Linked DNA regions of Homo sapiens. The protein of the gene in region 1 interacts with the protein of each later gene in a biochemical or structural test. Each region holds a gene or a part of one and is shown in the gene's direction. Other genes may lie near its edges. The genes, in order: CDC42BPG and RHOQ.

Evidence for each region.
Region 2: the proteins of CDC42BPG (region 1) and RHOQ form a complex in vitro, tested with the Homo sapiens proteins (one study listed by BioGRID).

The regions. Positions count from the first base shown.
Region 1 is NC_000011.10:64,822,510-64,827,863, reverse strand, and holds the end of CDC42BPG (serine/threonine-protein kinase MRCK gamma), read left to right. Parts: intron 1-80; coding exon 81-178; intron 179-252; coding exon 253-337; intron 338-465; coding exon 466-586; intron 587-696; coding exon 697-814; intron 815-1,069; coding exon 1,070-1,193; intron 1,194-1,308; coding exon 1,309-1,394; intron 1,395-3,334; coding exon 3,335-3,391; 3' UTR 3,392-4,812; downstream 4,813-5,354. UniProt on the Homo sapiens protein: May act as a downstream effector of CDC42 in cytoskeletal reorganization. Contributes to the actomyosin contractility required for cell invasion, through the regulation of MYPT1 and thus MLC2 phosphorylation.
Region 2 is NC_000002.12:46,545,395-46,552,646, forward strand, and holds part of RHOQ (rho-related GTP-binding protein RhoQ), read left to right. Parts: intron 1-7,252. UniProt on the Homo sapiens protein: Plasma membrane-associated small GTPase which cycles between an active GTP-bound and an inactive GDP-bound state. In active state binds to a variety of effector proteins to regulate cellular responses. Involved in epithelial cell polarization processes.

The DNA.
Region 1 (5,354 bases):
TACTGTGCTGTGGCAGGGGACAAGGTGTTCCCTGTGGAACAGAGGGGGAAACAGCTCAGAGGTGCCTGGCGTGCCCGCAGGGTATGCGGCCCCCTACCTGACAGTGTTCAGCGAGAACTCCATCGATGTGTTTGACGTGAGGAGGGCAGAATGGGTGCAGACCGTGCCGCTCAAGAAGGTGAGGGTCCGCCAGAGCCCTGGGGTAGCGCCGGGGGTGGAGGCGTGGCCTGACCGCTGTGCCTGCTGCCTCAGGTGCGGCCCCTCAATCCAGAGGGCTCCCTGTTCCTCTACGGCACCGAGAAGGTCCGCCTGACCTACCTCAGGAACCAGCTGGCAGGTGAGGGAGTGCGTGTGTACGGGTGTGTGCGTTCCCCAGTGCGCACGTGTGGCTGTGTGGCCCTGAATGCCAGCTGACTGGGCCCCGGGAATGTGTGAGCACAGCCCAGCTCTCCACTTCTCCCACAGAGAAGGACGAGTTCGACATCCCGGACCTCACCGACAACAGCCGGCGCCAGCTGTTCCGCACCAAGAGCAAGCGCCGCTTCTTTTTCCGCGTGTCGGAGGAGCAGCAGAAGCAGCAGCGCAGGTGCGCGTGCACGACGCGGGGGCTGAGGCTGGGTGGGGCCGCCTCCGCTTGTGGACGGGTCGAAGGGAGGGTGGAGCTTCGCCACCCACTACTTACACCTCCGCCCACAGGGAGATGCTGAAGGACCCTTTTGTGCGCTCCAAGCTCATCTCGCCGCCTACCAACTTCAACCACCTAGTACACGTGGGCCCTGCCAACGGGCGGCCCGGCGCCAGGGACAAGTCCCCGGTTAGTCCTCTGGAGCCAATCACAAGCCACTTTGGTGAGGCTGAGCCAATAACCGGCCTCTGTGGTGAGCTCTAGCCAATCACGGGCCGCTGTAATTACTCCTAAGGCCTGGGACTCACACTTCTGCTACCTGGGACTTAAGTAAAACCAGGCTGGGGGCCCAGTGGCGTTCATTTGTCCTGGTCTGTTGTGCCTTGGGCCTCTTGTCCTCCTTGTGCCTGCTAGTCCCAGCCCCTCCGCACTGTCACCCAACAGGCTCCCGAAGAGAAGGGCCGAGTTGCCCGCGGCTCCGGCCCACAGCGGCCCCACAGCTTCTCCGAGGCGTTGCGGCGCCCAGCCTCCATGGGCAGCGAAGGCCTCGGTGGAGACGCAGACCCCAGTAAGGGCAGCCCCTCAGCCTCCAGTGTGCCACCCCCCACCCCAAGTTTCTACCCCCTTTGGATCCCTGAAATCTGATCTTGGTATTTTTGTCTCCTCGTCTGCTGCTGGAGCAGTGAAGAGGAAACCCTGGACATCCCTGTCCAGCGAGTCTGTGTCCTGCCCCCAGGGATCGCTGAGCCCTGCAACCTCCCTAATGCAGGTGAGCGGGTCCGGGAGGCTTGTCCGTCCCCTATTCAAACGTCAGGCAGTTCCGTTTTATGCTAGGCCTTGCACAGTGACCTAGGCTAGGGAACAAGCTGAGCCCATCCCTGCCCTCGATTCTACGAGATGCAGATTCTTACCTGTCTCACCCCACCAGTGGGCACCAGCAGGATCCTGGATGCAGGCCAGCCTAGGTGGGAATCTTGGCTCTGACTGTTCCAGCTGTGTGGCTCTGGGCAAAATGCCCAACCTCCCTGATCTTGTCTTACCTGTAAAATGATGTGGTTTCTGGGAGGCCTGCATGAGCTGATGATACCTGCGAAGGGCTCAGCATAGTACCTGGCATGGGGAAGGTGCCACAGAAGGGGAGCTCTTGGGATTCTTTTTTTTTTTTTTTTTTCCAGATGGAGTCTCACTCTGTCACCCAGACTGGAGTGCAGTGGCACAATCTCGGTCAGTGCAACCCCCACCTCCCACATTTGAGCAAGTCTCCTACCTCAGCCTCTCCCAAGTCGCTGGTATTACAGGCATGCATCACCATGCCCAGCTAATTCTTGTATTTTAAGTAGAGATGGGGTTTCATTATGTTGGCCAGGCTGGTCTCGAACTCCTGACCTCAAGTGATCCGCCCACCTTGGCCTCCCAAAGTGTTGGGATTACTGATGTGAGCCACCATGCCCGGCCACTCTTGGGATTCTTAATAGAGGCCCAGTCCACAGCAGGGAGTTGGGGGGTCAGAGGAGGGAGCAGTCCATTCTGAATGAGGGCAGGGGAAAACCTAAGAGAAGCCAGGGAGGTTCCCATTCCCCCTGCAGCCACGTCTACAGCACACACATCCACCCACTCCCGTCACACCAGGCCACTTGGAGCCCTGGGGCTTGCCATGTTCTTCCACACCTGCAGGCTCTTGCCCCTGCAGTCCCCTCTGTTTTGAATGCCTTTTCTCTATCTTCACCTTAACCAACATCAGACTGCCCTCCAGGTGACCCACCAGGATCATCTTCAAAGGAGCCTTCCTGGCCGCTTGGTCAGGTAGTCATTGCCTCCCTGGGGCTGGTGCCACCTTTGCCACCCCGCTCCCTCCACACCTTCCTTGCAGCTTCTGCTGTGCTGTGGGTTTCTTCTGGTGCCTGTTCTCCTCTGTTGACTGTGGGCTCCTTGGTGGTGGGGGTCAGGCTTCATTCTTCTGCCCAGAGTAAAGCATGTGGTCGACTGAAGGAAGAATGGAGTGAATGAACAAAGGGACTTTGAGGCTGGGCGCTGTGGCTCACCCCTGTAATCGCAGCACTTTGGGAGGCTGAGGCAGGCAGATCACTTGAGGTCAAGAGTTCAAGACCAGCCTGGCCAACATGGTGAAACCCTGTCTCTACTAAAAATACAAAAATTAGCTGGGCCTGGTGGTGCATGCTTGTAATCCCAGCTACCTGGTGGGCCGAGGCAGGAGAATCACTTGAACCTGGGAGGCGGAGGTTGCAGTGAGCCAAGATCATGCCACTGCATTCCAGCCTCCAGAGCGAGACTCTGTCTCCAAAAAAAAAAACGAAAAACAAAAATTAACTAGGCATGGTGGTGCATGCCTGTCATCCCAGCTACCTGGGAGGCAGAGGCAGGAGAATCACTAGAACCTGGGAGGCAGAGGTTGCAGTGAGCCAAGATCATGCCATTATTGCACTCCAGGCTAGGCGACAGAGCAAGACTCTGTCTCAGAAAAAAAGAAAAAAAAAAGGACTTTGAGTCCATTCAAAGTTAAGTAGGAGCTCTCCAGGTTCTTCCAGTGACCCATTTACCACCTCTACTCCTCACCTCACATCTGGCTTCCTCCAGGGGCCCTGATACAGTGGGTGATGGGTCCTAAGGGGGCCTCCAGGACCCACCAGCCCTATGAGGAAAGAGTTCTTCCTGATCCTACCCCTTGACTTCCTTTTCTTTCTCCTGCAGGTCTCAGAACGGCCCCGAAGCCTCCCCCTATCCCCTGAATTGGAGAGCTCTCCTTGATGCCCTCTGTTAGGGCCCACCCCAATCCCAGGGCAGAAGGACATGAGGGAGCAAAGAGCTTGAGGAATGCCATACTCCGGCTGGTCCGGGACATGGAAATTCGGACTCAGGGAGGACCCGGGCTGGGCAATGACTGGGAGACTTGCCTGGGTTCCCAGGACTTGGGGGTCCTGACTCCCAGCCCTCATCCTGCCTTACCCCTCTGTTCCCAGCCCCAGCCTTTCTAAGCCATTGGGAATAGAATGGCCCCTTTTGTTCTGGTGTCCAGGGGTGATTGTGCCAAAGCTCTTATTTCCAGTGCCAAGCCCCCAGAGGCTTGTAAGAGTTGGGATGAGGGATGGAGAGGGACTGGGTCTCTGGGAACAGGTTGGAGGTCTTATCTGTGGACTGTCTGACTCCCAGCTGAGGCCAAGATGGGGCATGTCCCCGTCTCTGCTTAGCGTCTGGGTGAGAAAAACAGGCTGTGATCCAGAAGAAGGGAAGATAGAGAAGGAGGGAAAGGATGTAGGCGAAGGAGGTGAGAGACAGGATAGGAGGAAGGAAGTGGAGGAGGAGGTGATAGGAATTGGAAGGAGGTAGAAGCCGTGCAGAGGAAGAGGGGAGAGGGACGAAGGAGGAGCGATGAAGAAGAGGAGGGAGACAAAAAGAGGGATGGAGGAGAGAGGGAGTCTGGAGAACAAAGGGTCCTTTCTCTGGGGAGGGGTGCAGTGGGCGGGGCTGACACTGTCAGCCAATCCTCCCATCGGGGAAGAGAATCCTGGACAGGGACAGGATGGGGAGGGTATTTATAAGGGCTTTTTGGTGGGAGATGGGTACCCAGTGGGGGCCACTGGAGGGTCTCCGGGCACACTCTGGCCCTTCCCAGAAAGGGGGTCGTTTTTCTCGAATCTTCAACCAGTTGTGTATTGGAAACTAGGGCGCATTTTACTATTGATCACAGTCATTATATTGTTATTATATTACTATTTTTATTAAACCTCCCCCCACTGAAGTGTGGGGGGCAAAATAAGTATTTATCTCCTCAAATGCCACATTCCCAGGAGGGACAGACCCTGATGCTCTGTGAGGCGCAAGAAACCAATAAAGATGCCGGGCGCGGTGGCTCACGCCTGTAATCCCAGCACTTTGGGAGGCCGAGGCGGGCAGATCCCGAGGTCAGGAGATTGAGACCATCCTGGCTAACACGGTGAAACCCCATCTCTACTAAAAATACAAAAAATTAGCCGGGCGTGGTGACGGGTGCCTGTAGTCCCTGCTACTCGGGAGGCTGAGGCAGGAGAATGGCGTGAACCCGGGAGGCGGAGCTTGCAGTGAGCCGAGATCGCGCCACTGCACTCCAGCCTGGGTGACAGAGTGAGACTCCGTCTCAAAAAAAAAAAAAAAGAAAAGAAAAGGAAACCAATAAAGACAGCTTTGTAAGCTGCTGGCCTCCTTGCCTGGATCTGTCCTCTTGGGGTTCAGAAGGTGGGAGATTAGGAATGGAGGGAACAGTGGGGGTGTCACAGACAGTTAAAGGCCAGATTGTCTTCCCTGCCTTTTCAGGAATCAGGTGACATTCAAATGGGGTAAATGAAGGGACTTAACTAACGAAGGGCAGTTTACAGAAGCATGCACAGTGCTAAGGGAACACACCAATGAATGGCAGTGCCTCAGGGCCCGGGCAGCAGAGAGGAGCTCTTAGGACCCCCAGGCCACCCAGGCAGGAAGAGGCAGTGGTGCTACCCGACAGGAGCTCTAGCTTTTGGTAAAACTTGACCATGGCTGAGCTGAAAGGCAGCCTAGGAAATAAATTCCTCCGCCTCACTCCCTCCCATTTTCTGCCTCCCTTTGTCCAAATTCAACCAGCAGCCAGAGGCTCCAAGAATTCAGTGAACTGGCTGGGCACGGTGGCTCAAGCCTGTAATCCCAGCACTTTGGAAGGCCAAAGCGGGCGGACTGTGCCACCGCACTCCAGCCTGAGTGA
Region 2 (7,252 bases), on another chromosome or scaffold:
TTTTGACCGCACTCCCTGTTCAACAGGATGTGTGTAGTCAGAGCTGTTCTGAGTATGTTTAAACCCTGCTAGTATTTACTGAGTTTTTTCCTACATATGGGGCCAGAGGCAGACACATGCAAATATTATTTTATTTAGTCCATAAAACAACCCCATGAGATAGGTGGTATTTCATCTTTGCGGTGAGGAAACAGGCTCAGAGAAGCTAGGTTGCTTGCCTGAGGTCACACAGCTACTGAGGGGTGTTGCTAGGATTGGGACAGGGGTCTGAATCTGCTCCAGTTTGAAGTAGTTATACACACAGGACACCATGGGAATGCTGAGATGCCACGGGGTTGATTGGATTGTTTGTGCATCCATAGTTGTGGTACCTGTAATCTTCACAGCCATTCTCTGAGTGGGTGTTGGATGGCACCTCTACAGAGGAGAGAACTTAGATCCAGAGTCACTTGAAGTTGACCCCACTTACAAAACCAGGGCTTTCCATATATGGCCGTAATTACTCTTTTTAGTGGAGGATCATAAGATATAGACCAAGCAGGATGAACATATTAGTAAGGCTCAAATACTACTGTTTTCACCCAATGCTGGACACCATTGGTGGGGCCTAGATGTGTGTTAGGCCCCATTGGTGTTTTTCCCAGTGTCTAGACTTTTGTTTTTGCATCAAAGCTAGTAATATTTCATCTCCCAGCATTTGAGGGTTTATTACTAATAAGCAACTTAGCAATGATGAGACCAAATGGCAAGTGCCTGCTGTGTACCTGGTACTATGTCCAGGTACTTTTGCACCTGGGGAGTGCAAAGGAATGAATTTAAAATGGGGATCTACCACAGCTGATGTCAGCAAAGGGAGAAATGTCTGTCTCGGGTCTCTGTTCATGTGTTACATAGGAGATCTCTACATTGCACTTGGTCATTAAGACCTCAGGCTTCTAGGAATCCATATCAGATTTGTCTTACAATAATAACAATGATAAATAAACATGTAAATAAAAAGTAAATAAAAAACATTAAGGGTTTATATATATATATATGTATCCGTATACACATATACATATATATATATATATATATATGTGTATATATATATATATATATATATATATATATATATGTATATACATATATATATATACACAAATCCTTAAGCCTAGTGGGCAGCAGAGAAAGGTCCATGGGCTTTGGAACAAAACAGGCCTGGGCTCAGATCTCCACCTTAGCTAGTCATGTGATTCTAGCTAAATTATTTACCTTTGTGATCTAGTAAAAACGTGAATAATTAGAATCTGCATTACAAGGTCATAGGCTGGCTTAAACTCTTTAACATATTTAAAAGCAGCTGATACTTTGTGCATAGTGGGTGAGTGACAAATAGTACAGGAAATTATTATATTCCACTATGGGGAGTTTTGTGGGGAGAAAGGTTCACAGAGTGGAAGAGAACAGTATATTGTGCCTGGAGTTGATAGAAATTCCACTAGAATGCCAGATCCTAGAACCTTTTCAACCAAGGTGTGCAACAGCTTTGCGCATTGTAATTCCCATAGTCCCTATTGTGGGATCCATGGTTCCAAGCCCAGTGCTCCCTGCCGTAAATGCCCTGTTGTATCAGATGGTTTTCTGTCTTAAGCAGAGCCCGTATCCCCATTGATAGAAGAGAAATAGCTTAGAGTTCCATGCAGAATTTGACAGACAAGTAGGGTATGTAGGCTTCAGTTGGTTCTACTTTCAGAGAGTTAAGATGGAATGAGGCAGCTCATGGCACTACAGGTCAGTTGCCTTCTCTCCAAAATGTTCACTCATGCATGTGGGCACTCATTGTATTTGAATAACAGCAACAGTGCCTCCCTCAGTTTGGAACCTCTAGTCCACTTGCTCACTCATGGTCCCTGCCTTAACCCCAGTCAAGTTCAAAGCCATAGGCATCATTTGTCCGACTGACATATTAGGGCATCTACCAGTCAAAGGGTGATTGTTGTAGATGACCTTTGGCCTTCTAGAGCAGGCTGCTTTCCACTTGACCTCTGCTGCTATTAGCAGACAAAGAGAGAGAATGGGAGAGAGAGTGTATTGGACTTCAGTCCCCATCATGTGCACTGCCTGGGGACATCCCAGCACACTCAGAGCACCACTGCCAAAGGGAACACTTCCCCTCTGTTGGCCAAGCCCATGGGTGGTCCAGGAGCAGCTGTCACATTTTGACTGCCAAGCATTTTGGAGTGGAAGTTGACCGAGGCATCTTCCTTCTCACTAGGGGCCTTGCGTGTGTTTTGGGGGTGAGGGGTTGGCTTCCTGCCTGGGCCTCTGTGGAGCTTCTCCTTTCTTGCCCAGCCTTCAGGACTTCAGTGTAGGCTCTGCAGCAACCCCATTGTCTGCTCAAGGAGGGACTGGAGAGATGGGATTTTCCCTCCTGCTACTGCACTGTTTGGAGCGATGGGAAGTGGAAAGAGCTCTCCCTCTCTGTCCAGACAGGCCAGTGGGGAGCTGCCTGGCAAGCTGCTCTCTAGCTGTGGGCTCTAGGCTGATCTCTTAATCCTTGGCAGGAAGGCAGAACTTGATACCCTGGAGAGGGAAGGACTGAAGCCCAGTTTATTCAGGTCCCAGAATATCCACACTCAGGAGGATGTGTGTTGGGGGTGAATTTGGGATCCCTAGAGTTCCAGATTTAGCCACTGTCTCAGTGTGTGGAAGTCAATTTGTGTGCTTTGGGATGTATTGTTTCTATGTCTGTTAACTTAAACACACAAGTTCAGGGAAGCGTCCATGACAGCTATAAATATCTTTTACTCTGGTGTCCCTTGGTGTTGCTTTTTCAATGACAAGTGAGATTTGTTTTACACTTGATATAACCCAGCAGCTGTGGCTGCCCTGCATGCCCTCTGGGTGCCCACAAGGCACTTCCCCTACAGAAGGGAATCTCCACCGGAGGCAGGCTTGGCATGCCCCACCTTCTGCATTTTAGCAGAAGGGCCTGGCATGATGAGAAAAGGGAAGGAGAAAGGGCCATGGGATCACCACTCACCAGGCTCCTCCCACCTCCAGGCAAGTCATCCTCACAACACCCTTCAAGGTAGACTTCTCCCAGATGAGGAAATTGGGAACAAGTGGGCTTATGGGAACCAGACAGAGATGTGATTAGGAAAAAGGTTTTCTACTTTGGAGAAGGCCTGCAGGGAACATTAGTAGGGTTTAGGAAATGCCACTCACAACATCAGACTCTGGGTCCTTGTAGCCCCGTGTTCCATCCTTGCTCAGCCCGGTGAGCAGAGCCTGGGAGGAGCCCCAGGGTTCCTTCCAGGCATCAGCTGCAACAGGTGAGATGCTGGCACTGAGCATCCTGGTTTCCCTTAGTAACCTACTGTAGATTTGTCATGTGTGCATTTTGCTAACCTTTTTAGAAGCTATTTATATCTCTAGCCCACACCGCATCACACGGGAATGCTGGTTTCCTCCTCTGCGTTGGGAAGGTGGATAGCCTTTGTTGACTCCAAAGCCTTTGCTGTGTTCGCTCCAAAGTCTGAATGCCCTGTGTTCCCCTCCTTGGGACTCTGATGTGGGTTTGGGTTATGCCAGCTTAGACTGTGGGCTGGCAGGCAGGGACTTTAGGGTGGGGGCAGTCCCCACCAGCTCTCGTTGGTCTACAATTATGCCTCATAATCGGGCACATAATCTGTGCCCCATCCCCATCCTGGACCTTTGATCTGTTTGGCTTCTCCACTTCCATCATGATTCTCCTGAGGTTTGGTGACATTCCCACGCTTTGAACGACAGCTTCCCCGCAGGTATCTCAAGCATGAGTGTTACAGGTGTGCTGAGATGCCAAGCTCTCATCTCTGAGGGGCCGGGGGAGTGACAGCCTAAGGGGGTTGAGCATGTATTGTCAGTTGCTGTGGGTGCTGTGATGTGAAAAAGGTGGGAAGCATTGCTTTAAGCCCCTCGGGGTCAGAGGCCCCATGGAGAATTGGGCTTTTGCGGTTTTGTTGTGCAGTTTGGGGTTTCAAGAGATTAGATCTAATGGTATGAAAACAAAGCCAACAAAGTAGCTCTCCACGGGGGTGTCCGTTTCCAGAAAGAGCACATGTGTTGGCAGCTGTGGGTGCTACAGAGGCCTCAGACACAACAGCAATGCTTCAGCAGGAGAGGGACGCAGTTACAAAGAAACAAGATGGAAGACCATGTGTGGCTCTTAAAAATTAAAATTCCTGATTCTCAGCTGTATTTCCTTTCTCTCTGACAGGCTTGGCTTTGCCCTAATTTGGCACACTTGGGTCAGAGAGCAGCTTTCCTTGCCCTCAGCAATTTGTCATTCCTCTTTTGGTTTCTGAGCACAGCTGCTTTGCATGTACGGAGGCTGGGCTGTCTGAGCTCTCAGGGGTCCCCCGGCTCCCTGGGTAGAACGCTCTCCTGCCCAGTGCCGGCCAGGACCTCCTGGATGCGTTCTTGCTCTCTTCAAGAACAGTGTCTTTCTCTACCATGTTGCAGTGCTCAGCCCAGTGCCTGCTACCTTGTAGGCATGCAACAAATACATCTTAAGGGGATTCATGGCCAGGCAGGGTGGCATGTTCTTGTCTGTAATCTCAGTACTTTGGGAGGCCAAGGCTGGAGGATCATTTGAGGTCAGGAGTTCAAGACGAGCCTGGACAACACAACAAGACCCCCAATTCTACTAAATTTTTTTTTTTAATTAGCCAGATGTGGTAATGCATGCCTCTGTAGTCCCAGCTACTCAGGAGGCTGAGGTGGGAGGATCACTTGAGTGCAGGAATTCAAAGCTGCAGTGAGCTATAATACAAGGCTTCATTGCACTCCAGCCTAGGCATTAGAGCGAGACCGTGTTTATTTAAAAAAAAAAAAAAAGAATTGATTCTCATTTGACTGTCAGCTTGTTTCTGCTAAAAGGTTAACCAAGGACTAAAGTCATAGCTGCTAAATAATAGCATCAGCACAACCCCTTTTCCAGGAAAGCTTCACTAATACAGTAGAAGTCTTTAAGGTTCAAAGGAGAAACAGGCACATAGGTATGGGGCAGGCCATCAGTTTTGTCTTTACACAGGCCCAGGGGCCTTAGTGATCACCAGTGGGTCTGTCTGTCCCCCAACACTCTGTCTCAGACTCCGGCCTTTGCATGTTTCCTGAGACCTCTTGCTCCCAGATCCCCTGAGGAGGAGACAGGTTGGCAGTGGAAAGAGTGTGGGTTTTGGAGCCTCCAGATGAACTTCGAATCCTAGTTCTACCTCTTTGTAGCTGTGAGACATCGGCCAGCCGGCTCACTTCTGTGAGCCTCTCTTCCTTCTGTGTGAAGTGTGGAGATAATTTATACCCTGCAGCATAGCTGTAAGGATTAGAAATGATGTATGTCGTTACCCTGTAGGGCTTGGTGCTGAGAGTGCGGGCCCAGGCTAGCTCTGGGGGCTTCACACTGGCTCAGTTCGGTTGGTGTTGATTCAATGCCTGGTGTGTGTTCCCACCTTCCACAGGAGAAGGTGGGGGATCGGGCCACAGAAAGGTCCACTACACAACTGGGCAAGTTCATCGTGTGAAATTGAGTGCTGCAGGGTCCCACACAGGAAGAGGTGACAGGGAGGAGCTTTTTGGAAGATCTAGGCTTGCAGGAAGAGATGGGGGCCAGTAGAGTACTGGTTGCCAGTGTGGACCCCCACACTGGACTCCCAGGGCCCAACTTCAGCTCTGCCACTTCCCAGCAAGGGGCTTAACCTTCGGAAACCTGTTTCCTTATCTGTCAGATGGAGATTATGATAGTACCTCCTTGTGGGGTTGTTAGATATGTTGGAGCTTCCCAGCTCCCAGATAAGGGATTTCCTCAGCCCTCAGGGCAGCTGGGTAGGGCCTGGGACAAGCCATGGCTCAGGTTGTCCTAGCTTGAGCAGTCTCACCTCAGGCATGCAGCAGTGGCTCCTCTACTCCACCCGATGTGTGCTGAACACATCATCTCATTTTCTCTGTGTGCCATGAGGTGAAGATTTGGGAAGCATTGACCTAAATGAGTTCCAGCAGGCAGAGGGGTGTGGAGAGCTCATATTCTGAGTGGGAAGAATAGTGTAGGGAGGAACGGCAGAGGGGGTGACCCCAAAGCGTCTTTTTATGGACCCCAGATCCCTGCTATCAGTGTCAACATGTGGAGCAGGGTTGATAACTAAATTATGGAGTTTTTCACCTGGTGACTGACAACTTGGTAATTAAAGAGATATTAATCTGGTGCTGTGTTGCTGGTTGATTTTAATAGAAAGAAAAGAATGTGGGGAAAGGGGTCTTTATTGCTGTCTCTGTTCCTTTTTGAGTGAATGGTGAGAGCACTGAAGCAGCCGCCTCTCCAGATCCCTAGATTTTCCTGCTCTACTCAGGCTCAGGGTAGACTGAGGGGCTTAAAAGTGGCAGGCTCATCATCAAATGACATTTTTACAGCACATAAAGCATGTCGCACCTGGTACCGCCTTGAGTTCCCTCACCTGCTCTGTGAGTAAAGGAAGCCAGTGGTGGCTGTCTCATTTTGCAGATCTGGGGAGGTTAAATGACTCGCTCCAGGCCACACGGTTGGTAAAAGGCAAAGCCGAGATCACCAGGCAGGCTGTCGGACTTTAAGCCCTGGGTTCTTGATGTTAAGTCACTCTCCCTAATCATCTGGCCCATGTTAAATGCCTCTTTTATCACATGCACTGTTGTTCAGCGTTTCATGTAAAAGGTACATTCCAAGCGTATCGCTTTTCTAGCTAGAAGAGATGGTGGAACATTGTGTATAGGTGGAACACGTAGGGACGGCTGCTAAAACGGCTCCTACAAAGACTTCTGCCCCACGTGACGTTACGGGTGTTTTGTCACTTTGTCCCTAAACCACCATGCTTCCTCAAAAAGGAGCAGGCCCGAGGTGGCGCTGATGGCCCCATTGCTCAAGTACGTGTGGAAGAAGCTCATGCCATTTGCCTAAAGCTGTGGCCCCTTCCCAGAAGAGAGGGACAGGGAAATGCTGTTTGGGGGGCTGCCAGGCGGGCCAGCTTTAGCCTGCAAATGACGGGTGTCGTTTGTGTCCCATGGGGGCTACCTCAGGCCTTTCCTTTCTCCCTTCAAGGATTTTCTTATTCAGGGGAAGCCTACCTCTGCAAAACTGTTTGTCCCTCCTTCATCTGAATATTCTCTAAATATGGCGCAAAACTTCCTCTGCCACCTGCTGCTCATATTGTTTGCCCTCTTGGGCCATCCCCATTGCCACCACCTCTGCATGGGCTCCCAAATC